2 separate regions of the Homo sapiens genome follow, and region 2 is linked to region 1. Evidence: fine-mapped expression QTL. A gene starts in region 1. The other region holds a variant in brackets. All regions are shown on one strand. Distances are between the middles of the regions.

Region 1 (12,184 bases):
GAGGCACAGGCCTCTCCAACAGAGGTGGTGCCGGGACAGGGGCAGTGCCTGGAGACCGCTTAGGTTGTCACAACTGGGATTTGTGTACTAGTTTTCTGTAGCTGCCATAAAAATTGCCACAAATTCAGTAGGTTTGGTTTCTTTTTCTTTTTTCTTTTTTTGGTGGTTGGGGCGGAGCGGGGGGCAGGCTTGCTATGTTGCCCAGGCTGGTCTTGAACTATTGGACTCAAGTGATCCCCCGACTTTGGCCTCCTGGGTAGCTGGGACTGCAGGTGCATCCCACCACACCCGGCCTTTATTTTTTTTTTTGTAAGTTTTTATAGAGAAACAGTCTTGGTATGTTGCTCAGGCTGGTCTTGAACTCCTTGACCCAAGCAATCCTCTTGCCTCGGCCTCCTGAGTAGCTGGGGTTACATGAGTGTTCCACTGGTGCCTGGCTTTGAGTGTTTTAAAACAACACAAATGTATTAGCTAAGTTTTGTAGAAGTTCAAAATGGGTATCTTTGGGCTCAGAATGAGGGGTTGGCAGAGTTCTGTTCCTTCTGGAGGTGCCAGGGGAGACCCTGTTTCCCTTTTTCTAGCCTCAAGAAGCCACCTGCATTCCTTGGCTGGTAGTTGTGGCCTCCTTCGGAGCGGCCGAGCCCCTCTCTGCCCTGCCCTTCTCTGCCCACCTCTCCATTGCCTCCCTCCTGCACCCTGAAACACACTTGTGGCTACGCTGGGCCCACCCGGAAGATCCAGGGTCGCCTGCCTGCTTTCGGGTGAACTGGTTAGCCCCCTTCCTAACCTGCCACTTAACCCAGTTAACCCAGCCTGCTCCAAGGTTCTGGGGATTTGTACACAAGTATCTGTGAGAGGGGCATTCTGCCTTCCACAGGGGCTGCCGGCACCTGGTGGGCAGAGGCGGCGGCGCTGTGCTGCTCAGGATCCCGCAATGCATGGGCAGCCCCAAACCATGAGGGCCCGGCAGGAAACCCGGGGGCAGAGGAGGGTGCGTGCGGCGGGAGCGCATGTGAAGCCCACCTTGCAAGGGGAGGGGCGCGCTCTTCGCGGGACGGCAGAGGGAGGGTCTCTGAGGCGCGTGGAATCAAGGGGACAGAAGAAGCAGTCTCGGGAGTGGGAAGGATCCTGGGAGGGGAGTGGGAAGGATCCTGGGAGGGGAGTGGGAAGGATCCTGGGAGGGGAGTGGGAAGGATCCTGGGAGGGGAGTGGGAAGGATCCTGGGAGGGGAGTGGGGATCCCCCGAAGTCTCGCAGCAGTAGTGTGGTGCTTAGGCCGTCGCCCCGGCCGCCACTGCGCCTCCCCACCCGCAGGCCTCCGCAGCGCCACGGGCGGCCGCGCGGGGTAGCGTTTGGGGGCTCCCGGGGACGCGGTCTCCGGCGCGCAGGTCCGCCCAGGGTTGGCCGCGTGGTCCCCCGGGCTTCCCACGCCCGATTCGAATTGTGACTCCGGCTGGCTCCGGACCGAGCCGAGGACGCTCCGGCACCACAGCAGGAGCCGCGCGGGCGGGGGCGCGGGGCGCGGAACGGGGCGCGGGGCGCCTGGGAGATGTAGTTCGCGGCCTTCCCCGGCGCACCAGACAATGCCCGACGCGGCCCCGCTGGAGAAACGCCTTCCTTGGCTTTGCAGAAACACCGCTTGCTATTAATACAGCAACGAATACAGCTTTAAAAACGCGCCCAGTGTCCTCCCTGGAATAACAGCTGTTAACATTACCTAAAGGTTATCCCAGATATTTCTAAATGTATATGGGGAGATAAAAGGATGTAATGGAAATACAGAAATACGTGTCGAGTTGCTACTTATAGACTTTTAAATATTTAAAGAAAAAAATTGCTAAAAGCAGATGAATGCTTCTTCACCTCAAGTTTAAAAGTCTCCTTACGATGGCCGGGCGCCGTGGCTCAGGCCTGTAATCCCGGCACTTTGGGAAGCCAAGGCAGGCAGATCGCTTGAGCTCAGGAGTTGGAGAACAGCCTGGGCAACAAAGGGAAGCTCCATCCATACTGAAGATACAAAAATCAGCCGGGCGTGGTGGTGCTCTCCTGTAGTCCCAGCTACTTGGGAGGCTGAGGTGGGAGGATCGCTTGAGCTCAGGAAGTCGAGGCTGCAGTGAGCCGAGATAGGCCCACTGCACTTGAGCCTGGGTGACAGAGTGAGACCCTGTCTCCAAAAAAAAAAAAAAAAAAGTCTTCTACGATTATTTTTAGAAATTACAAAAACATCAAGAGATGAGTGTGTTTGGTTTACAGCAGCAAAGCACGGTTCGGCTGAGGCGGCACCGGCTGACTTCTGCCTGTGAATGGTGAGGAACTGGCACTGACATTTCCATATCCCCTGGCAGGGCATTTCTTACCAGAAGATCAAGGCTCACCGCCAGTATTTGACCCACTGAAAGTCTTTGTTTTGATTTACATCTTTACTGGCTGGACTTAAGATCAGTTTTTGTTGTTGTTGTTAGACAGGGTCTTGCTCTGCCACCCACGCCGCAGTGCAGAGGTGCTATCTCGGCTCACTGCGAACTATGCCTCTCAGGCCTAAGCTATCCTCCTGCCTCAGCCTCTCAAGTAGCAGGGACTACAGGCATGCACCACCACGCCCCGCTAATTTTTATATTTTTCAGTAGAGATGGGTTTTCACTATGTTGCCCAGGCTGGTCTCAAACTCCTGGGTTCAAGTGACCTGCCCAAAGTGCTGGAACTTCAGAGCCAGAGCCCTGGTTTTATACACTTTATTATGTTCCCCTCCCTGCTAGATTGCAAACCCTCTGAGGGCAAAGGTGCTGTTTCCTTACCCTCCAAGGCCTAGAGTGGCCTGTAGCTTGAAGTAGATGTTTAACAAATAATCAATGAGTAAATTATTGTGTTAATCACTTTGTCTTGCTCTGAAATTATCTCAAGCCTTTCATCTCCAAGTAACTTGATATTCTGCCCTTTGCTGTTTATGACTTGATCCAGCCACGGTGCGATTTTGGTGCTTCCGGTTTGCTTGGCTCTTAACTCTTCCTCCCATCCTGCTGTTTTGTCGTCAAGCATTTGAATTCCTGATTGTTGAATTCATGCTGCTATGAAGCTCTGAAAGAAGTCCTGTGGAGTCCTCTTCTGTTTCTTTGGTTGCGTTTTCTTATTTATTTATTTATTTATTTATTTATTTTTTATTTTTGTTTCTTTGAGACGGAGTCTCACTGTGCCGCCCCCAGGCTGGAGTGCAGTGGTGTGGTCTCGGCTCCTGGGTTCATGCAATTCTCCTGCCTCAGCCTCCGGAGTAGCTGGGACTACAGGCACGCGCTACCACACCCAGTTAATTTTTTTGTATTTTTAGTAGAGATGAGGTTTCACTATGTTGACCAGGCTGGTCTCGAACTCCTGACCTCAGGTGATCCTCCTGCCTTGGCCTCCCAAAGTGCTGGGATTACAGGCGTGAGCCACCACGCTCAGCCCAGTTGTGTTTTCTTCCATACTGGGTTTCTCACCGGCCCCTCACACCCTCGATGACTTGTTTTTCTGTTGTTGAATGACATGGATGTGGTCACGTGCCACCTCTCAGCAATGCTCCCACCTCAGCCTCCGGGGATATGCCACTACTTCTGTAGTGCTTTCTGACGTGAAAGCTCTTTCCTGAATGTCTATTCGCTCTGCTACTAAGTGGATGGAGTGGATGGATTTTTTTTTTTTTTTTTTTTTTGGAGACGGAGTCTCGCTCTGTCGCCCAGGCTGGAGTGCAGTGGCATGATCTCGGCTCACTGCAAGCTCCGCTTCCTGGGTTCACGCCATTCTTCTGCCTCAGCCTCCGGAGTAGCTGGGACTACAGGCGCCCGCCACCACGCCCAGCTAATTTTTTCTATTTTTAGTAGAGACGGGGTTTCACCGTGTTAGCCAGGATGGTCTCGACCTCCTGCTCGTGATCCTCCCGCCTCAGCCTCCCAAAGTGCTGGGATTACAGGCGTGAGCCACCGCACCCAGCTGGATTCTTCTTAATTCTTTGTTTTTATTGTTTGACTCACCTGAGGTCTTTGGACTTTGCCTCTGAGCTGGCTTAAGGGCAATCCACCTTGTTCACTGGTCTGGAGTGGGGAGGCAGAGTATGGGTCGGCTGGAGGAGTGGGGCTCTGTGCTCTCTTTTGAGAGTTTACTAAACGTCACTCTGCATGGTGAGGGGTGTGTCCTCTCCGCTGGGGAGGCCTGGCTTGAATTTCAGATTGCCTCCCTGGGACACCAGACCCTGTGCTGTGCTCCCTCAGAAGGACAGCCTTGACTGTCTCCACTCCAGCAGTCAGTTCTCTCCACTCCCACTGGGAGAAGGAGCAAAGGCTGGTGTCTTCAGGAGGCTCCTCTCCAGGCTGGGGCCAGGGAAGAGTGTGCATGTCACTGTCAGGATGTGTCCCAGTGGTGTGGCTGGGTTCTCAGGGTGAAGCTCGTCCATTTCTGGGATGGCAGCGGAAGCAGGCACTACACACGCAGCTTCAGGGGGCTCTCCCCATGCTTCCTAGCTGCCTGGCACTTTCTGGTGTTTCTGGCTAACTTTCTGGCCATGCCAGGAGTTGGTGGAAGGAGATCTCAGGCTGCAGCTTTGCTTTCCTGCTGAGGAGACAGAGGTAGGCTGGGGCTGTAGGACAGGGGAGGCCAGCAGCCCCACCTTCCTTCTGGAGAGACGCTGCCTGTCTGTCATTGCCCCTCTCCTGCACCTGGCCGCTGGCTGGCTGCTCTTCCCTCCCAATCACCAGCAAGCCAGCTCCTGTTCCCTGCAGCCCAGCCCGCAGGATGTGTCCTGGGACCCATAGCCCTCTCTCCCCAGAGACAGCACCGCCCTGCAGCTCGGGTTCCTGGCCCTGTGCTAACCCTGGTGGGGCTTTCCTTACTGGTCTGCTCTGCAGCCATGACATTGTGGCCACCGCTCTCCTTGGGACCCCCACCTGGCTTTCCTCCCAGCACATGCTGTTTCCTACCCACCTGGATGGTGTCCTGTGTGCTGGATTCCCCATGCTGTGTCCCCAGCATCCTGACCATGTCTGTCCCGCCTGCCTAGATCTTGCACCGTGGCCACGGGGCTCCCTCCTGATAGCCCTGAACGCTCCGCTCCATGTCCTACAGAGAGGGATGTCCCAAGTAGATGTCAGCTCCCTCCAGCATCTGAGCAGGCAGGACAGAGACCCACGGTGCTGCTCACATCAGCAGCCTGGAACCCCGAGACAGCTCCTTTTGCTCACCTCCCCCAACACTGATGTTGCACCTGTCTCCAAGCCACTCTGGGACCATCTGTTTCTCTCCATCTGGGAAGCCCCCTTCGCACCTCATGCTCTTCCTGGCTGGGGCGTCTGGGTCACTCACTGGACTCTCCTCTCCTTAGACCTGTGCACAAGCACACACGGGAAGGCATCCTGACAGGTGGTGGGAAGAGAAGGCAGCTGCCTCACTGCGGAAAGAGCACGGCCGCTCCTGGACTCCAGCCCTGTTGGGGCTGGCGGGGTCAGCAGGCGCTGGGTTCCAGCCTCAGGTGGGGTCTTTGGAGGTGGCCTCTGGGCACAGGCACCTCCTCTGCGGCCTTCTCACCAGGTCACGGTTCAGGGAGGCTTTGCCGGCTACGGAGCCTGCCCACACCAAGGCGCGCACGACCACCTGTCCAGAGATGCCACGCGGGCTGGGCGGCGAAGGCCAAGGACACGCCCTGCCTGGTGTCGGGGGCAAAGGTTAGGCCTGGAAGGGAGGTGTGGGGTGGGGACCCCGAGGCCAGGGCTGGGCCGCTGAGCTTCAGGGCCCTTGGGGGGCTCAGGGAGGAATGCCGGAGGACCCCAGCATCAGGAGGAACCCCTGGAGAGCTACGGCAGGACTCACCTGTGGGGCACAGGGAGGGATCACCAGGGAAATGGCCCTTGTGGAGGATCTCCCCTCTACCCCCAGGGCACCAGGGGAGGATCTACCAGGGGGTTCTGGTGGAAGGGCCCACCCGGGAAGCGGCGCGCGGGGAGGACTCGGGGGCGCCGAGAGGAACTGTCCGGGAAGGGGCGCGCGGGCCGCGGGCGGCGCGGGGTCGGTAACGGCCCGTGCGGTGGGCGGCGGCGCCCGAGGCCCCTCCCCGCCGCCCGCGGCCGCTCCTCCTCTTCCTCTCCCGCCCGCGCCGCGGCCCTCCCGTCCCTGCGCGGCCTCGGCGGCCTCGGCGGCGGCGGCGGCGGCGGCGGCGGCAGCAGCGCGGCCCCTTTAAACGCCTGCGGCGCCCCCCGCCCCCGCCATCGCGCCTCCATTTTCCCGGCCGCCCGCGCCGAGCGCCGCGCCCGCCCCGGGCCCCTCCGCCGCCGCCGGCCCGGACATGGCCGCCAACATGTACAGGGTCGGAGGTAAGGCCGCACCGCCTTTATGCCCGGCCCCGACCCGCCCGCAGCCCCCACCCGCCGCCGCTGCCGCCTCCCCCGCCCCTCTGCCCCGCAGGCCCCGCGCCCCCCGCCCGCCCTCGCGGCCCCCGGCTCCTTCCCGAACCGCCCCCCGCCGTGCTCACCCCAACCCAAAATGGCCCCGCGGGTCGGCCCCATCGGGGGCGGGCGGGGCTCGGCGGCCCGGGGGTGGGGGGCGGCCCACCTGTTGGGGCCGAGGGGGCGGCCGCGGGGGTGGCGGGGGGGCGCGGGGCCTGCGGGACATCCGGGGGTCCGGGGCCGGGAGCCCCCAGCGGGAGCACGTGGCCTTGGGAGGCGCCGGCTGCCGGTCTGGGAGCAGGAGTTTTGGGGCTGTGGGGTCTCCCCCGGCCCGCGGCCCTGTGCTGGGACTCCGGTGCATCCCCTCTGGGGATGGGGAGCCCCGGTGAGGGGCCACGTTCCTCCCTAGAGCCCTCCTGCAGCCTGGCCCCGGGGCTTCCCCCAGCAGGGATCCCTCAGGGGGTCTTCAGCAGGGAGCGAGCATCCCGAGCACGCCTCTAAGTCCCCCCAAACTTTTCCCTGCCTCTCGCTCACCTCAGCCCATTCGGGAGGCGCTTTGCAAGGGTTGGGGAGAGGCCGGAGGGCCTCCTGGGCAGGGGCTTCCTCCGTGGGCCCAGCCTCCTGTTGCTCGGGCCCCCCGGGCCTGCAGCTTTGAGCCTTGCCCTCCTTCGTGTGCCTGGGACTCCGTGGGGTCTTTCACAGGAAGGTGGGGGGTCGTGTGCATTCCATCATTCCATCAGCGCCTCCCTCCCCAGGACTCTGAGACCCCTCCCTGCCTGTGACCCTCTCGGGCAGGTGCTCATTACCTTTCCCACCTGCAGCCTGCGCTGCTGGAGGGAGCTGGGGTCACTCCCGCTCTGGCTTGATCCCCATGCCCCTGACCCCGAGTGCCCAGAACACTCTGTGTCTCTCGAGCGTGGCTTCTGCTGCCTTGGACGCCGTGTGGTCTGGCCGGCCAGTCCTGTGACCTTGGGGACGGTGGGAGCCCCCTACATCCCGTCTGTGAGATGGGCGGTCAGTCCGCATCAGCAGCTCTGGGCCTCCCCTGTCCTCTCAGAGGGGCGGTGGGCCTGTACCCCATCCAGCGGCAGCCCCTCCCACAGCCTCATACAGCTTTGCCAGGTCCCTGTGTGGACCCAGGTGCGCTGAGCCCACCCCACGCTCAGGGAGCAGCCTGGGTGCGGGGTCCCTCGAGGGAGGGGCCTGTTCCTTCCTGTTCTTTCTCCCCACCTGGAGACCCCCCTTCCAGCCTGACATGAGGGCCCAGTTTCTCACCCTGGCAGAGAGGATGCCTGCTGCCTGGGCTCCAGCCGGGCCCACTGCGCATGGTTTTGGGATTGGTCCCAAGAAGAGCTCTCCCTGCCCCCACCCATGTTGGGGGTGGGGAGTGGTGGCAGCTTTGGGCTCTAGGGCTGGGGACACCCCGACCCCAACTCATGCCTTCCTAGTGGCTGCATTGCTCGGCCTTCAGGCCTGCCTGCCTGTGATCTTGGCGCCAGCCTGGCTGCCCCCCCTCCAACCTTCCCATGCCTCGGTTTCCCCATGGTGTGGGTGAGGACCTCGTCTCTCAGCCGTCCTTTTGTGCCCTGTGGCAGCTGTGCTGTGGCTGATGAAAGCCAGGACCCTGCCTTGTCCCATCCCGGAGGTGCAGCTCCCCTGGGCCCCACACAGGCTTGGGAGGAGCCCTTCGTGGGGCTGCGCCGCCCTCCCCGAACCCTCTGTCCCCCTGTGCCCGCAGGCCCGTCCCAGGGCCTCACTGACCCACGCACTCCAGTGCTGTGAGGGTGGGTGGCCTGGACTCCTAGGCTGTGGCGGAGGGGCCCCACCATGCCTGGCAGAGATGCTGCTGGTCTCTTTTCCTGTGATGAGGAGCATGGGAGGTTGGGTGCTGTCTGCTGGCAGCACAGCCACGCGTGGGATCCAGACTGCTTCTGCGTGTGCAGTCCGTGGTCACTGTGGCCGGGTGTGCTCGGAGCTGTCAGGCCCCCCACGTGCCCGCCCCGAGGACTTCCTCTCCCTGCAGGTGAGACTGTAGGCCTCCCCCTCTCTACTCTGACTGTCCCTATAGGAGAAGCGGCATTTATCCCTGGCTTCTGGACCGGAACCCTGGGTTCCGGCAGGACCCCGGCAGAGCCCTGTGGTCGCAGTGGGCTGGGCATTGCAGGTTGGCTTCCTGTCTTGGTGCTCGCTCGGGGAGGTGGGCGTCTGGATTCTTGAGCCCCCAGACAAGAAAGAGGAAGGTGTGCAGTGTCTCCTGAGCAGCCTTTGTCCGTCTGTCGCCGGCTGCCTGGCACGGGCTCCATCTGGGTGGCCAGTCCTGGCCTGTGGGAGATGCCGGCAGGGACCCAGCCTGGGAAGGGGCTTGCTCCTGTGCCCCCCCACCCCAGGGACCTTGTGTGTAGAGGCACCAAATTTAGTTAAGAAAAGTACAGGACGCCCAGGCAAATTTGAGTTTCAGATAAACAGAAATTTATTAGTGTAAGTATGTCCCAAATATGGCATGGGACATACTTGTCCCAGAAGATTCTTATCTGACATTCACAGTTATCTGGGCAACCCGTATTTTAGCTGGCAGGCTACTCCGAGGCCCTGCCAGGTTGGGCTAGGCAGGGTGAAGGTGTGGTGGCAGTATTTTTGTGCCAGCTGAGCTGGGTGAAGTGGTGAGCAGGGAGGGAACAGGGCCTGTTTCTTCCCCATGGAGTGCCCTGGCCACGGACAGAGGCCTTCTGTCTGTGCCTGTGAGGGCAGCGGATGGCCTGGGCAAGGGTGGCGGGGTCAGGGTTCCCTGACCTCTGCTTCTCAAGGGTTGTCCATCCCGAGGGCTGGGGAAGGCTTGAAACCTGCTGTGGGATGAGAGGGCCCCAGGGCAACGGCGGGATGTTTCTTCTCTGGGTTGAACATGAAGATGTTAGATAGCATCCAAAACAGGACAGCAGGAATCGGTGCCTGCCAGCCGCCTGCAGCTTGCTCATGTGGGGCTTCTGCTTTTCAGTGGACAGGCCATTACCATTTTGCCTTGGGTGTTTCTGTTTTTCATTGCAAGAGGTTAACACCCCATCTTTTGGATTTTTTTTGTTTAATTTTTTTTTTTTTTTTTTTTTTGAGATGGAGTCTTGCTCTGTGGCCCAAGCTGGAGTGCAGAGGCGCGATTTCGGCTCACTGCAACCTCCGCCTCCCCGGCCCAAGCGATTTCCTGCCTCAGCCTCCCAAGTAGCTGGGACTAGCCAGGCGCCACCAGGCCTGGTTAAGTTTTACATTTTTAGTAGAGACGGCGTTTCTCCATGTTGGTCAGGCTGGTCTGGAACTCCTGACCTCAAGTGATCCACCCGCTTCGGCCTCCGAAAGTGCTGGGATTACAGGCGTGAGCTCATGCCCGGCCTTTTTGTTTTAATTTTAATAAAAGTTGAGGCTGGGTGACAGAGTGAGACTCCGTATCAAAAAAAAAAAATTTTAATGTAGTTTGAAAGGATGCCAGAAAGCCCCTGCCCCTGCAGGGCCGCGGGCTCTGCCCCGGTCTCTGGCGCAGCCTGGGCGGAAGCACCCTGTCCGTGCTGCTGGTCTTCACTGGGCTTGGCATGTGCCATCATCTGCGCTCTGGCGCGCTGTTAGAAATGTTGCTTTTGTATTTTTATTCTAGTGTTTTTTTGAAGTTTAAACTTTATTGCTCTATATACTTGCCAGTGGGGAAAAAAGTAAACTTAAAAAAAATGTCAGATTTGTAGAGGGCTGCAGCCAGCGCCGCCCTACCCTGGAGTGCTGAGTGCACCGTGTCCCTAGGCACTTGCTGCTCCATGGGCCGACTTTTGGGGTCCCACCCATCTTTTCCAAGAAGGCAGGGAAGAGCCCTGGAGACACGGCCGTCCTGTGAGCACCAGGAGCGGGAGTGGTAGAAGTGGCAGGGGCCCAGGTGTGATGTCCTGGAGGGGATGGCATGGGGCTGTCCCACTTGGCCTGTGAGGATCGGCCTCAGCACTGCGCCATTGGCAGCCCTGGCTCACTCTCCAGGCAGGATGGGCCACTGAGCTTCTCCTGCCTCAGCCACTGAGCACTCCTGGCTTGCTCCACCTTTGTTTTTTTGAGACGGAGTCTCGCTCTGTCCCCCAGGCTGGAGTGCAGTAGCGCAATCTGGGCTCACTGCAAGTCCGCCTCCCGGGTTCACACCATTCTCCTGCCTCAGCCTCCCAAGTAGCTGGGACTACAGGCGCCCGCCACCATGCCTGGCTAATGTTTTGTAATTTTTTTTTTTTTGTAGAGACGGGGTTTCACTGTGTTAGCCAGTATGGTCTCGATCTCCTGACCTTGTGACCCACCCGCCTCAGCCTCTCAAAGTATTGGGATTACAGGCGTGAGCCACTGCGTCTGGCTTTTTTTTTTGTTTTTGAGACAGTCTCACTCTGTCACCCAGGCTGGAGTGCAGTGGCACAATCGCGGCTCACTGCAACCTCCGCCTCCTGGGTTCTAGTGATTTGCCTGCCTCAGCCCCCTGAGTAGCTGGGATTACAGGTGTGCACCACCACACCTGGCTAGTTTTTGTGTTTTTAGTAGAGACAGGGTTTCACCATCTAGGCCAGGCTGGTCTCGAACTCCTGACCTCAAGTGATCCACCCGCCTCGGCCTCCCAAAGTGCTGGGATTACAGGCGTGAGCCACGGTGCCTGGCCCCATATTGTTCTGAGTGGAGAATTTGATCGTTAAGCTCTCAGAATAATAAAAAAGTAGCTGTCAGTGAGAGATGTTGGAATATATGGTCCAATGAAGCACATCCCTCGCGCCCGACCCGCCCTGGCAGTGCCGTTCCCGCCCGTGTGTGTGGGTTCTGGGTGTCAAAACTGCTGCAGTGGCCCTGCAGGCATCCTACCTAGAGGTGGGTCCCCAGCTGCGCATCTGGACGCTGGTCAGCAGGTGAGGCTGGGATGCCAGAGGAGGTGCCGTGTGCCTGGCCAGGTACCCGGGAGGCGGCTTGGGGGAGCACTGGCTGCAGGGCCTCCTTCCTCCTCCTGCTGAACTTGGAGTGCTCTTGCCAGATTATGGGCTGAGTCCTGCTAGGGAGGGTGGCCCCCCTTCCCCAGGAGGAGCCCACCCTGAGACCTGGTTGGGGGGCAGCTTAGACCCTACCTTAGACTCCAGCAGGCTGTCTTGGGAGCATGTAATTATGTTTTTTTTGAGACAGGGTCTCCTGTTGCCCAGGCTGGAGTGCAGTGGCACCATCACAGCTACTGCAGCCTCCACCCCACAGGCTCAGGCGATCCTCCCATCTCAGCTTCCTGAGTAGCTGAGACCACAGGTGCACACCACCATACCCAGCTAATTTTAAGATTTTTTATAGAGGCGGAGTCTCACTATGTTGCCCAGGCTGGTCTCGAACTCCCGTCCTCAAGCGATCCTCTTGCCTTGGGCTCCCAAAGTGCCGCTGGGTTTGCAAGGCTGTGAACTACCATGCCCGGCAGAGCATTTAATATTCTCCAAATGTCTTTCCTCGTGTGCTACCTGGGCTCACTGCTTTCTGGGGCTCTCGTGTTGCTGGTGTCTCCACCCCCACCCCCACCCCAGCTGGCCTGCTCCATTCCTGTCCCGGTGGGCTCATGTCTGAGTGTGCGGACTGGGGGATCTTGGTGGCGATGGAGCCAAGCCCAGGGAGGCTGGGGCCACCCTCATAGTGCAAGGCCACCCAGCACCTCGCCCCTATACCCCACCCGCCCCACCAATGTGCCCCCGGCACCCCCGAGCCCAGGCCCCAAGGCTTGCTTCTATGGGCTTTGCACCACCCTCTAGGCTGCTCCCG
Region 2 (12,184 bases), 230 kb after region 1:
GTGATCTACGTTGCAGGTGTAGGTCTGGGTGCCGAAGTTGCTGGAGGGCACGGTCACCACGCTGCTGAGGGAGTAGAGTCCTGAGGACTGTAGGACAGCCGGGAAGGTGTGCACGCCGCTGGTCAGAGCGCCTGAGTTCCACGACACCGTCACCGGTTCGGGGAAGTAGTCCTTGACCAGGCAGCCCAGGGCCGCTGTGCTCTCGGAGGTGCTCCTGGAGCAGGGCGCCAGGGGGAAGACCGATGGGCCCTTGGTGGAGGCTGCAAGAGAGGTGGTGCCATGTGACCGCGGTGTGGGACAGAGCTGGGCCCAGGGCGCAGAGGCCCCTCGGTTCTTGTCTATCTGCGAGGGTCCAGGCAGGGTCCAGTGTCTGGGCTCACGGGCATTGGGTGTGCACCTGGCTGGCGCCACCTGCGTCACCTTAGCCCCCTCCCTGCCCCAAAGCCAAAGTCAGGCCCGGCCTGCCCCAGAAAGCTTGCAGGACCGGTGGCCCTGTGGTGCCCTTCTGCAGGCACCCCTGCAGCCTAGGAGGCGGGGCTCGGCAGCCAGGTCAGCGCTCTGTGCCTGCCGGGAGTCAGCACAGTCCAGGGCCTCTAGCTTGGCCTCAGCTCTGGCCATCGGTGCCACCTCAGGGACGGCTCATGCCCATTGGCCCCACTCCAGCCTTTTATGGGTGCCTGGCTTGACCAGTGGACACTGTTCTCAGATGGCTTCTCGTGGGTCCCCCGAGTCCCCTGAAGCTCCTGACCCTGCCGCCCCAGCGTGGCCCTCCGCTAGTGAGTGGGCCTGACTTGCCCAGGGCCCTGGTCATAGCCTGCCCTCTGCCCTCCAAGGCCCTTTTCTTCTGTGCAGCAGAGGGGCCAGACACTGCATAGGGTCGGCGCCCTTCAGCCCCAGGGCCCCGGAACCCCCTGCCTTGGAATAGCCTCCTGGAGCCTCCTCCTCAGCCTCTCCCCTCCTTTCCCCTTAGCCCCAGTGTGCAGCAGCCCAGGTCAGGGCCCTGAGTGCCTGGATGCCCCCTGCCTCCCAGTGTCCTGCATTACTTCTGGAGGCTCAGTCACCACAACCTCACCCTCCCAGCCCTGGCCTGGCCTTCTCGGCCACCAGCCCACCTCCTCCCTCTCTCCAGAGCTTCCCCCGGCAAGGTCCCTGCTGGGCTCAACCCAGGCCCCCCAGCACAGGTAGGAGCCTTGCACCTGCCCTTGGCCCTCCCCACCCTGCGTGGTGCCAGGACCCCCAGGCCACAGGGAGGCCCCATTTCTCTCTGCCGCTGGCCCAGTGGCCCTGGAGTCCCACTGCAGGTGGGGTGTGCCCCTGACCTCTGAGGAGGCTAAGTGCCCTGCCCTCAGCCAGGCCATCCCCTCTGCTCAGCCCCAGGGCCCCGCTCACCACCCCTTCCCCTCACCTGCACCACAGGCTCTGGCTGACTCTGCCCAGGCCCTGAATGGGCCCCTCTGGCAGCCCTCTGCTGCTACACTGCCCTGCACCACCTCCACTCAGCTTCATTGTGCTGGTGGCCCTGGCTCCTGGCAGCCCATCTTGCTCCTTCTGGGGCGCCAGCCTCAGAGGCCTTCCTGCCTAGGGTCCGCTGGGGCCAGCCCTGGGACCCTCCTGGTCTCAAGCACACATTCCCCCTGCAGCCACACCTGCCCCTGCCTGAGAGCTCAGCCCCGAGCCCTGGAATGCCTTCCCTTCTCCATCCCAGCTCACCCTTGCCAACTGCTCAGTGGGATGGGCTCACACTCCCTTCCTGGCACCAGGAGGCTGCACTGCACTTTCACCAGCCCTCAGCTGTCTGCTGCCAGCAACTACCCAGCTCCTGCCAAAATCTAGGAGCTGAGTGATGCCTCCCACCGGCCCTGCTCACCTGTGGTTGCCTTGCCCTGAGCTCTAGTGCCTGTCCCCTGCTCGTCCTGCCTCCCACCGGCCCTGCTCACCTGTGGCTGCTCTGCTCTGATTCCCTGAGGCTAAGCCTCAGTCCTGCTCACCTTCTGATGCTCTCCTCTGTCCCCTGAGCTCCAGGGGCTGTCCCCTGCTCGTCCTGCCTCCTACCTGCCCCTGCTTACCTGAGGGTGCTCTGCCCTGGTGCTCTGAGCTCCAGGGGCTGTCCCCTGCTCCTCCTGCTTCCTACCAGCCCCTGCTCACCTGTGGCTGCTCTGCCCTGGTCCCCTGAGCTCCAGGGGCTTCCCCCTGCTCTTCCTGCCCCCACCAGCCCCTGTTCACCTTCAGATGCCCTCCCCTGGTCCCCTGAAGTCCCAGAGCTGCCCCCTGTTCCTCCTGCCTCCCACCAGCCCGTGCTCACCTGCCGCTGCTCTGCCCTGGTCCCGAGTTCCAGGGGCTGCACCCTGTTCGCCCACCTCCCACTAGCCATGCTCAGCTCTTGATGCTCTGTCCTGGTCCCCTGAGCTCCAGGAGCTGTCCCCTACTCGTCCTGCCACCCACCAGCCCCTGCTCACCTGAGGCACCTGAGGCTGCTCTGCCCTGGTCCCCTGAGCTCCAGGGTCTTCCCCCTGCTCATCCTGCCTCCCACCTGCCCTTGTTCACCTTCAGTTGCTCTGCCCTGGTCTGCTGAGCTCCAGGAGGTGCCCCCTGCTCCTTCTGCCCCCACCTGCCCTGCTCACCTGTGGCTGCTCGGTCCTGGTACCCTGAACTCCAATGCCTGCCCCCTGCTCACTCTGCCCTCCCTCAACCCGGGCAGCAATGTCACTCAGGTCACTGTTGCCCCCCTGCCTGTCCTGGCACCCTCTGTCCAGGTTTGGGCTGTTTTTCTGGCCTCATTTTTGTTTTTGCAGCACTTGGCTTGTTCCCTATGCTGTGGAGCAGCCCCAGTGTCCAGTCAGGTCTCCCCAACAGAGCCCCTTGCCCTTGCCCATGTGCCCCTCCTGGGTGAGCTCCCAGATCCTCCCGTCCCTGCACTGCTCCTGCTCTGGAAGCCTCTCCAGAACCTCAGCTCCTCAGTGGCCTCTGCTCTGCTGGGTCAGCTCCCTGAACGCACGGAGCCTCACCCCTCCCCTCGCCCCAGGCCTGCTGCACTCTGGGCCTTTCTGGGCCTCCCTGGACTCTTCCCTCCTCCCATCTGTGCACTCAGCACAGCTCTCCCCTCCACTCCGCTGCTGACCACAGCCCTGCTCCCCGCCAGCAGGTGCCCCAGCGCCATCAGGTGGCTCTGAGCCTAGCCCCTGTGCCTCCCCTGTCCCTGCCTCTGCCTCTGGGCTCCTTGGCTTCCACCCTCCTGTCCTGCTGCCACACTCACCCTCCCTGCTCTGCTCCCGGCTCACCTGCTGTCCTTGGTCCTGGCTGAGAGAGGGCCCCACGGCCAGCACTGCTGACCCTGCCCTGGGCTCCAGTGATGCTGCTGGCCTGGACAAGCCCCTCCGTTCACCTGGGGCCTCTCCTCCTCCCTCGTTCTACTGCCTCCTCAGCTCAGGTGGGTCCTGCCCATGCTGGCATCACCCCACGGCCGGCTCTGCCGCATCCCGTCAGGTTCCTCGTGCTCCCAGCCTGGTCGTCATGGAGGCCTCAGTCAGCCTCTGGTGTGTCCTGCCCTGTTGGCTTGGAAGCCCCTGCCCACGGTCCCCGTCATCTTGCACTGGGTGGGCGTTGGTGCCTGAAGGCTGCCCACCTCCCCCGTGCTGGCTCCGCTTGGGTCTCCATGTGGGGCTGGCCTTGCCCCCACGTCTCCCCAGCCTCTTGTAGCCTGTTCAGCAGCTGAGGTCCAGGAGCGCCCACGGCTGCACCCAGGCTCTGTCCTTCTCCTCCCGAGCCTGTGCCCTTGCCCTGTGCTGACCCTACTCACCGAGGTGGGGGTCTCAGCCCTTCCTGTTTTGGCGCGGTACATGTGGGCAGACTTGCCCACGCCGTCAGCTGCTATTTGTCTTCCTAGGAAATCACAGCTCGGCCCTCAGGTCCCCAGGGGTGTGAACTCCACGCTGCAAAGACTAAGAACAGGATTGAAACCGGCGGCACCGCTTACTTCCTGAAGTTCCCTTTTCTTCTGGTGGTTTCTGTGTCACAGGGTAAGGGGGAGTCCAGACACAGCCGAGGCTGCCTCATGGGTGTGTGGGGATGGGGGTGGTGGCTGCCCCCATACTCGTGGGAGAAGGTGGGGAGCCCGGACCTTGTTCACTGCTCTTTTCTCTGTCTCTGAGTCCCTGGGGCTGGACTGATACTGGCAGTGATTATGACCATTCTGCCCGTGGTCTCAGCCTCTCAATACCTGGGCCTCTCACCTGAAGCTTCTGACCCCCACTGGGCCCTGGTGGCTGCTTTGGCCTGGGCGTCTCTCCAGCTGGCTCTCACTCATGGTGCAGGGAGGGGAGTGTGAGTTCATCCCGCTGAGCAGCTGGCAAAGGCGAGCTGGGATGGAGAAGGGAAGGCGTTCCAAGGCTCAGGTCTGAGCTCACAGGCAGGGGCAGGTCTGGCTGCAGGGAGAATGTGTGTGCTTGAGACCAGGAGGGTCCCAGGGCTGGCCGAGTGGACCCTGCACAGGAAGGCTTCTGAGGCTGGTGCTCCAGAAGGAACAAGATGGGCTGCCAGGAGCCAGGGCCACCAGCTGTGCTCCTGGGGGCCGAGGGGACGTGGGACAGGTGGATGAACACACTGAAGCTGAGTGGAGGTGGTGCAGGGCAGTGTAGCAGCAGAGGGGAGCCAGAGGGGCCCATTCAGAGCCTGGGCAGAGTTGGCCAGAGCCTGTGGTGCAGGTGAGGGGAAGGGGTAGGGGGCAGGGCCCTGGGGCTGAGCAGAGGGGATGGCCTCTGCTTAGCTTAGGGCACTTAGCTTCCTCAGAGGCGAGGGGCACACCCGAGTTGCAGTGGCACTCCAGGGCCACTGGACTACAAGCAGAGAGAGAAATGGGGCCTCCCTGGGGCCTGGGGGATGCTGGCATCATGCAGGGTGGGGAGGTCCAAGGGCAGGTGCAAGTCTCCTACCTGTGCTGGGGGAGCCTGGACTGAGATCAGGAGGGACCTTGCCAGGCCGAAGCTCTAGAGAGAGGGAGGAGCTGAGGAAGGACGAACGTGGAAGTGGGAGGTAAGGGGGGATGGTATGAGGCCAGAGGGACTGGGCAGACCAAAAGCCCGAGGAGGTGTCGCACAGGAAGTGTCCAGAATGGAATAGGAAGTGTCCGGAATGGAAAAGGAAGCATCCAGCATGGAACAGGAAGCATCCAGAGTGGAACAAGAAAGGTCCAGCATGGAAAAGGAAGCATCCAGAGTGGAATGGGAAGCGTCCAGAGTGGAACAGGAAGCATCCAGAATGTAACAGGAAGCATCCAGAGTGGAACAGGAAATGTCCAGCATGGAACAGGAAGCATCAAGAATGTAACAGGAAGCATCCAGAGTGGAACAGGAAATGTCCAGCATGGAACAGGAAGCATCCAGAATGTAACAGGAAGCATCCAGAGTGGAACAGGAAATGTCCAGCATGGAACAGGAAGCATCCAGAATGTAACAGGAAGCATCCAGAGTGGAACAGGAAATGTCCAGCATGGAACAGGAAGCATCAAGAATGTAACAGGAAGCATCCAGAGTGGAACAGGAAATGTCCAGCATGGAACAGGAAGCATCCAGAATGTAACAGGAAGCATCCAGCATGGAACAGGAAGCATCCAGAGTGGAACAAGAAACGTCCAGCATGGAACAGGAAGCATCCAGCATGTAACAGGAAGCATCCAGAGTGGAACAAGAAACGTCCAGCATGGAACAGGAAGCATCCAGCATGGAACAGGAAGCATCCAGCATGGAACAGGAAGCATCCAGAGTGGAACAAGAAATGTCCAGCATGGAACAGGAAGCATCCAGAGTGGAATGGGAAGCGTCCAGCGTGGAACAGGAAGCATCCAGAGTGGAACAAGAAACGTCCAGCGTGGAACAGGAAGCGTCCAGCATGGAACGGGAAGCATCCAGAATGTAACAGGAAGCATCCAGCATGGAACAGGAAGCGTCCAGCCTGGAGCAGGAAGCGTCCAGTGTGGAGCAGGAAGTGTCCAGCGCGGAACAGGAAGTGTCCAGCGTGGAAAAGGAAGCATCCAGCGTGGAACAGGAAGCATCCAGAGTGGAACAAGAAACGTCCAGCGTGGAACAGGAAGCGTCCAGCATGGAACGGGAAGCATCCAGAATGTAACGGGAAGCATCCAGCATGGAACAGGAAGCGTCCAGCGTGGAGCAGGAAGCGTCCAGTGTGGAACAGGAAGCATCCAGAGTGGAACAGGAAGCATGCAGAGTGGAACAGGAAATGTCCAGCATGGAACAGGAAGCATCCAGCATGGAACAGGAAGCATCCAGCATGGAACAGGGAGCATCCAGAGTGGAACAGGAAATGTCCAGCATGGAACAGGAAGCATCCAGGATGGAACAGGAAGCATCCAGTGTGGAACAGGAAGCATCCAGAGTGTAACAGGAAACATCCAGCGTGGAACAGGAAGCATCCAGCGTGGAACAGGAAGCATCCAGCGTGGAAGAGGAAGCGTCCAGCATGGAACGGGAAGCGTCCAGAATGGGCACTTTGAAGGGAAATCATGTCCCTCCCACTAAATGTGCTCTCCACAAGGACCCGGCCTGCCCTTGTGACCCTGCTGGATCCCTGAGCTGGCACCAGCCCTGCCCTCAGAGAGAATGTCCAGGAGACAGGTGGAGGTGCACGTGTGGGTCCCTGGGGAAATCCATCCTCCAGCCGCAGGCTCCCAGTCGGCTCCCAGCCTCTCGTTCCAGCTTCACCCCATGGAGCTCATAATGGGCTCAACCTCCCAGGCTGGGGGAGGACGGAGTGAGGGGCCCCCCACTGCCCATGGCACACCCAGGGGGCTGGGGAGTCTGCACTGGGCTGGGGCAGGGAGGCCTCGTGCAGCCTGTGGGGCTGGCAGCTCAGGACAACACTCGTATCCGTTAACTGTGGCCCTGGCAACACTGCACCCCAGACTGCGTGGCTTAAACAACAGACGTTTATTCCGTCCTGGTTCTGGAGGCCGGGCATCTGGGATG[G/C]AGGCCTCGGTGGGGCTGGCTCCTCTGTGTCATGGGAGACTCTGTCCCAGGCTCTCTCCTTGCTGCTGGGCTTTGCCGGCCGTCTCTGGTGCTCTTGGCTTATGGAAGCAGCACCATCTTCACAGGGCGTTCTCCCCACGTGCTGTCTGTGCCCAGATTCCCCCTTTTCATGAGGACAGCAGTCATATTGGATCAGAGGCTTGCCCTACTCCAGGGTGACCTCATCTGAACTTGATTGCAGCTGCAAAGACTGTTTCCAGACAAGGTCACATTCTGCGGTCCTGGGGGTTAGGACTTCAACACATGAATTTATAGGGGACACATTTTAACCCATGACAGTTTGCCCTCCGTTCCCCCCATAATCATGTCCTTCTCACACGCAAAATCCCTGCATCCCATAGCAACATCTCCAAGATGGCTAACCCCTTCCAGCACCAACTCTTAGTCCACAATGTCAGAGAAACATCATCTGCATCAAGTGTGAGAGAAACCCAGGGTGAGATTAGGAGAGAAACCACAGCGGGGTGGCGAGCCTCCTGCCCCCTCCGGCCCAGGTGAGGCCGTGTGCACTGTGTGGGTGTGCCTGGGGCTCCACTTGCCCCTCCCATGTACCTGCTCATTTTCCCCAGGCTGTGGGCATTTGGGGCAGGGGCCTCAGTGCCTGGTCGGCTCTCTCCCGGTTCTATCCAATGCCCCAAGCTTGCTGGGCTGGAGGGGCCGGGCAGCGTGGGCCCCCAGGAAGGAGGATGGCTTCCCAGCTGGGGCTCCATCTCTGGCCTCTGCCAGCCTTGAGATCTCCGGTCATCTGTGTCTCCCTCCTGGGGCCCAGCAGGCCTGCTCAGCTCTGAGCCCCATGTCCGTTCTCACCCTGCTCTGCTTTTCCTTGGGGTGCTGGCCCTGCCCTGGCCTCCACAAATGGCCCCTGCCCCCACCCCTTCCTGTCTGAGGGGCTGGGCTGTTCCTCTCCTGCCCGGCGTGTGCCCACCTAGGCCCAATAGGCATAGTGCCCCCAGCCCCTCCTGCCCTCTTCTGGCCTTCACGCCCAGCCATGCCGGCAGCCCGCCTCAGTGGCCTGGGCCTTCACCAGCTCCTGGCTCTGTGTCCAGCTGCCACTCCTGTGGCCCTACGGTGCTGCCCCTTTCCCTCAGTGATGGGGGCTGGGCTTCCTGGGAACGGGCTGTGTCTCAGCTGCACACACCTGTGTGTGTCAGTGTGCGCATGGGAGTGCGTGTGTGTGCTGGGGGTGTGTGCAGGAATGCTTGTGTCTGGGGGCAGGGGGAGCATCTGCCTTCCTGCCCCAGGCCTGGAATGGCCGTGCCAGGGTGGGTGGGAGCAGTGCGTGCGAGGACAGTGCTGCTTTGACGTCTGCGTGTGGCTGGTGTGGGCGGGAGGACGTGGTGTGGCACGAGTCTCGGGCTCCCCATCTCCATCCAGCTGATCCCGGATGGCTGCGCTCCTGAGGGTTTAGAGCAGCCCAGGGGGTCAGGAGGCTGTTGGGACGCTGGAGGCAAGCGCTGGCAGGGATGGGGGTGGGCTGGCCAGGCAGCGTGGCCAGGGGGCTTCGAGCCGGGGCAGTGAACCATCCCCCAACTTTTTAAAGTTTTAAAAGTCATATTTACTCAAGTGTAGTTTACATTCAGTATAATCCATCCTGTGACATGTAAGTTTCAACAAATGCACAGTCATGCAACCACCACCGTAATCCAGATGAACAGTTGCAAGAAGATGTAGAATCTCTCCAAAAATTCCACCAGGCCCCTTTGCAATCAACGCCTCCCTGATGGCTAGGAATCCATTGATCTGCATTCTGTCAGAAGACTCAGAGTTCATCATTAAAATGATCTATTATGGAAAATATTATAAGCATACAAAACACAAAACCAAGTTTTAAAAAGTGAGGTATTTCTTAAAAGTTTAGTATACAAACAAAATGAAGGTACCTTCACATTTTACTACAGATGTGCAGATAGTTTTCTTGGTGCACAGAGATAAGGCAGAATTAAGTCAGAATAAACGTTCTAAAACTGACCTCCGGAAGAACTAGTCTTAGTCATTTCTTTGCAGAGTATGTGAACCAAGATTCGGGTTTGGTCTTTGGTGTTAGCACTGTGTCAAGGATCAGATAGAAAGTACAAATGGAGGGGCCCCTTTCTGAGGCCAGGCCCCACTGTCGGGGCATGTGGGGTGACCAAAGGCCAATACCAGCTGAGGCTAAGAGGCTGCTCTCAGAAAGGTAGGTTTGCAGGTGTCTCTTGAACCCTTTGTTCAGAACCGGGACGTGTGGCTGGGCAGCAGCCTTCAGAATCCCCACAGGCTGGTGCCCGGTGCCCACAGCCCTCTCGGGTTGTCAGGACCCTGCACCCGTGGTGGGGTGCTGGGCTCCAGAGTTCCCTGGGACCAGCTGATCTCTTGTCCTTGGTTTTGGCCCAAATGCAAGCCCCTGGTCTCCTCCAAGTAACTTCCTTTCCCCAGGGCTGTCCAGGCCCCACCGCTGCCTGTTCCTTCCCAGGGCCTCCCGCAAGTCCCGATGCTGACGCCTCTCTGCCCACCTAGTTTGTGGCCGCCGCCTCCAGCTCTGTGTCTGCCTCCCAGCGAGGGAGCCGTGGTTGATGATCTCGTGAGTGTCTGCCCTTCTGAAGGTACAGTGTGAAGTCTCATCAGTCTCACTTCAATGCCTAAGCACCTCTTCAGAAACCAGGGATTCATCCAGGTTTCTCCATCTTTAACCATGTTTTCTAAAAGTTTTCTTGGCAATTTCCTGGCAATTTGCAAGACAGGATTTTTTGGTTGCCAACTTCCAATTAGCTTTAAACTTGCCACGATCTCCCAGGTCATCCCGTCCATCGATGATGCTTATTACATTCTTCCTGATTTCCATGTGGCCAAATTCAATAGTTATTTACCCCAGGCTTGTATTTTGGAGGCTAAAGAACTCTGTTACCAGCTATATCCGTGCTGTGGCTGCCGTAACAAAATATCACAAATGTGGCTTAAAACAACAAAAATTTTTTCAGAGTTCTGGGAGTCAGGAATCTGAGATCAAGGTGTTGGTGGCTGTCTCTGAGTGCTCCAGGGGAGGACCGTCCACCTCTTCCAGCTTCCTGTGGTGCAATAGTTTGGATGTGTGTCTCTCCAAATTTCATGTTGAGATGTGATTCCCAGTGTTGGAGGTGGGCCTGGTGGGAGGTGATTAGATCATGGGGCTGGACCCCTCATGAATGGCCTAGCACCATCTCCCAGGTGATGAGTGAGTTCTCCCTCAGTTAGTCCCTGTGACAGCTGGTTGTTTAAAAGTCTAGGACGTGCCACTTCTCTTCTCTTGCTCCCTCTTGCCATGTGACATGCCTGCTCCCCCTTCGCCTTCTGCCGTGATTGCAATCTCCCTGAGGCCTCGCCAGAAGCAGATGCCAGGGCCGTGTTTCCGGAATGGCTGCAGAACTGTGAGCTAGTTAATCCTCCCTTCCTTGCCACAGTGCCTGGTGCAAACCTCTTTTCTTTATAAATTACCAGATTCATGTTTTTTTTTTTTTTCTAGTAACACAAATAGACTAACTCAGAACATTGGTATTGAGGAGTGGAACATTGCTATAAGGATACCTGAAAATGTGGAAGCAGCTTTGGAATCAGGTAACAGGCAGAGAGGTTAGAAGAATTTGGAGGACTCAGAAGAAGACAGGAAGATGAGGGAAAGTTTGGAATTTCTTAGAGACTATTAAATGGTTGTCACCAAAATGCTGATAGACATATGGACTGTGAAAGCCAGGCTGATGAAATCTCAGATGGAAATGAGAAACTTATTGGGAACTGGTGTAAAGGTCACGCTTGTTAAATCCTAAGAAACAACTTGGCTGCATTGTGTTCATGCCCTAGGGATCTGTGGAAGGTTGACCTTAAGAGTGATGACTTAGGGCATCTGTGGAAGACATTTCTAAGCAGATGTTTCTAAGGTGTGACCTGGTTGCTTCTAACAGTCTATGGTAAGATATGGGAGCAAAGAAATGACTTAAAGTTGGAACTTATATTTAAAAGGTGTAAACGACAAAATAAAATGCTAATCCAAGGGGATTCCAAAGAAACCTGGAAAACCAGTTCAGGCCATGACAGGAAGGGGAGGGTGGTTTGGACTCCCTCACTATACCCTCTCCCTGTTGGAGCTTAGGCTCAGCTGACCAGTGTTAACATTAAAACAGGGAGCTTAAGACTGACAAAGCAGACTCTTTGTAGCAATAAGATATCAAATCCCAACCTGATTCTGGTATAGCATCACATGACAGGTGGCAGGCATGGAAGGAAATTAAAGTATTTTATGCCAGAATATATTTCTCTGACACATTTTGGAAGGGCCCTGCAAAGCCGTCTCTTGTGGAGGAAATGTATATTCTGTTGAGAATCTTTTTCCCTTTCCAGGTCTCTTCCTGATTCAGGAGAGATTTATCCAAGAGTCTGGCACCTTTTAGGTTCTGATAAGAGACATTGACCATCTCTTCTCTCTGGAACGTGGAGGCTTCATCTACATAACAAGAAACTTGGCTTCCACAACCCCCTTATCTTAAGCATTGCTTTTTGCTGACTTCAACTTTTTAGATAATTTAACTTTTTCAGCCAATTGCCAATCAGAAAATCTTCAAATCCACCTATGATTTGGAATTCCCCACTTTGAATTGTCCTGCTTTTCCAAACCAAACCAAACCAATGTATACTTTACATGTATTGATTGATATGTCTCCCTAAAACATAAAAGCAGGCCGCAACCCAACCACCTTGCACAGGTGTTCTCAGGACCTTTTGAGGCTGTGCCACAGTTCATGGCTCTCACATGTGGCTCAGAATCAATCTCGTCAAGTGTTTTATGGAGTTTGGCTTTTTTCATCAACAAAGGGAAGCAGAGCATAAAAAATGTGGAAAATTCACAGCCTGGCCATGTGGTAGAAAAGAAAAGGTATTTTCAGGAGACAAATATAAGTAGGCTATGGAGCAGCCAGTTGCTAGAGAGATTAGCATAACTAAAAGGGAGCTAAGTGCTCATATCCAGAACAAAGGGAAAAAGGCCTTGAAGGCCTTTCGGAAATCTCTGAGGTGGTCTTTCCCATAACAGGCCCAGAGGCCAAGAGGGAAAGGATGGTTTTGTGGGCCATGCCCATGGCCACTGCTGCCTGTGCAGCCTTGGGACACTGCTCTCCACATCCTGGTTCCTCTGGCTCCAGCCT

Alleles and levels. Positions count from the first base shown, and alleles are read on the strand shown. Sizes are in standard deviations (SD) of each study's normalised expression.
As copies of C replace G in region 2, the expression in esophagus muscle of the gene that starts at base 6,007 in region 1 goes up (moderate effect, 0.56 SD a copy in GTEx).

The links. PIP is the estimated chance that this variant, and not a neighbour inherited with it, causes the effect.
Region 2: its variant is fine-mapped to the expression of MTA1-DT in esophagus muscle (GTEx, PIP above 0.99).

The regions. Positions count from the first base shown.
Region 1 is chr14:105,413,733-105,425,916 of GRCh38, forward strand. It overlaps MTA1-DT (MTA1 divergent transcript), which reads right to left and starts at 6,007. Exons shown (of 2, transcript NR_125385.1): 1 at 5,290-6,007; 2 at 3,849-4,577. MTA1 (metastasis associated 1) reads left to right here and starts at 6,095. Exons shown (of 21, transcript NM_004689.4): 1 at 6,095-6,331. The coding sequence starts at 6,304. It overlaps TEX22 (testis expressed 22), which reads left to right. Exons shown (of 4, transcript NM_001195082.2): 4 at 1-127. RefSeq lists silencers at 1,214-1,623, 5,659-5,758, 5,789-5,838, 5,929-6,188 and enhancers at 4,292-4,961, 7,640-8,307, 8,308-8,977.
Region 2 is chr14:105,644,530-105,656,713 of GRCh38, forward strand. It overlaps IGH and IGHG2. Among named protein-coding and RNA genes, the nearest start is that of MIR8071-2, 10 kb to the left of the region's middle. The variant G/C (reference allele first, on the strand shown) is at 6,978.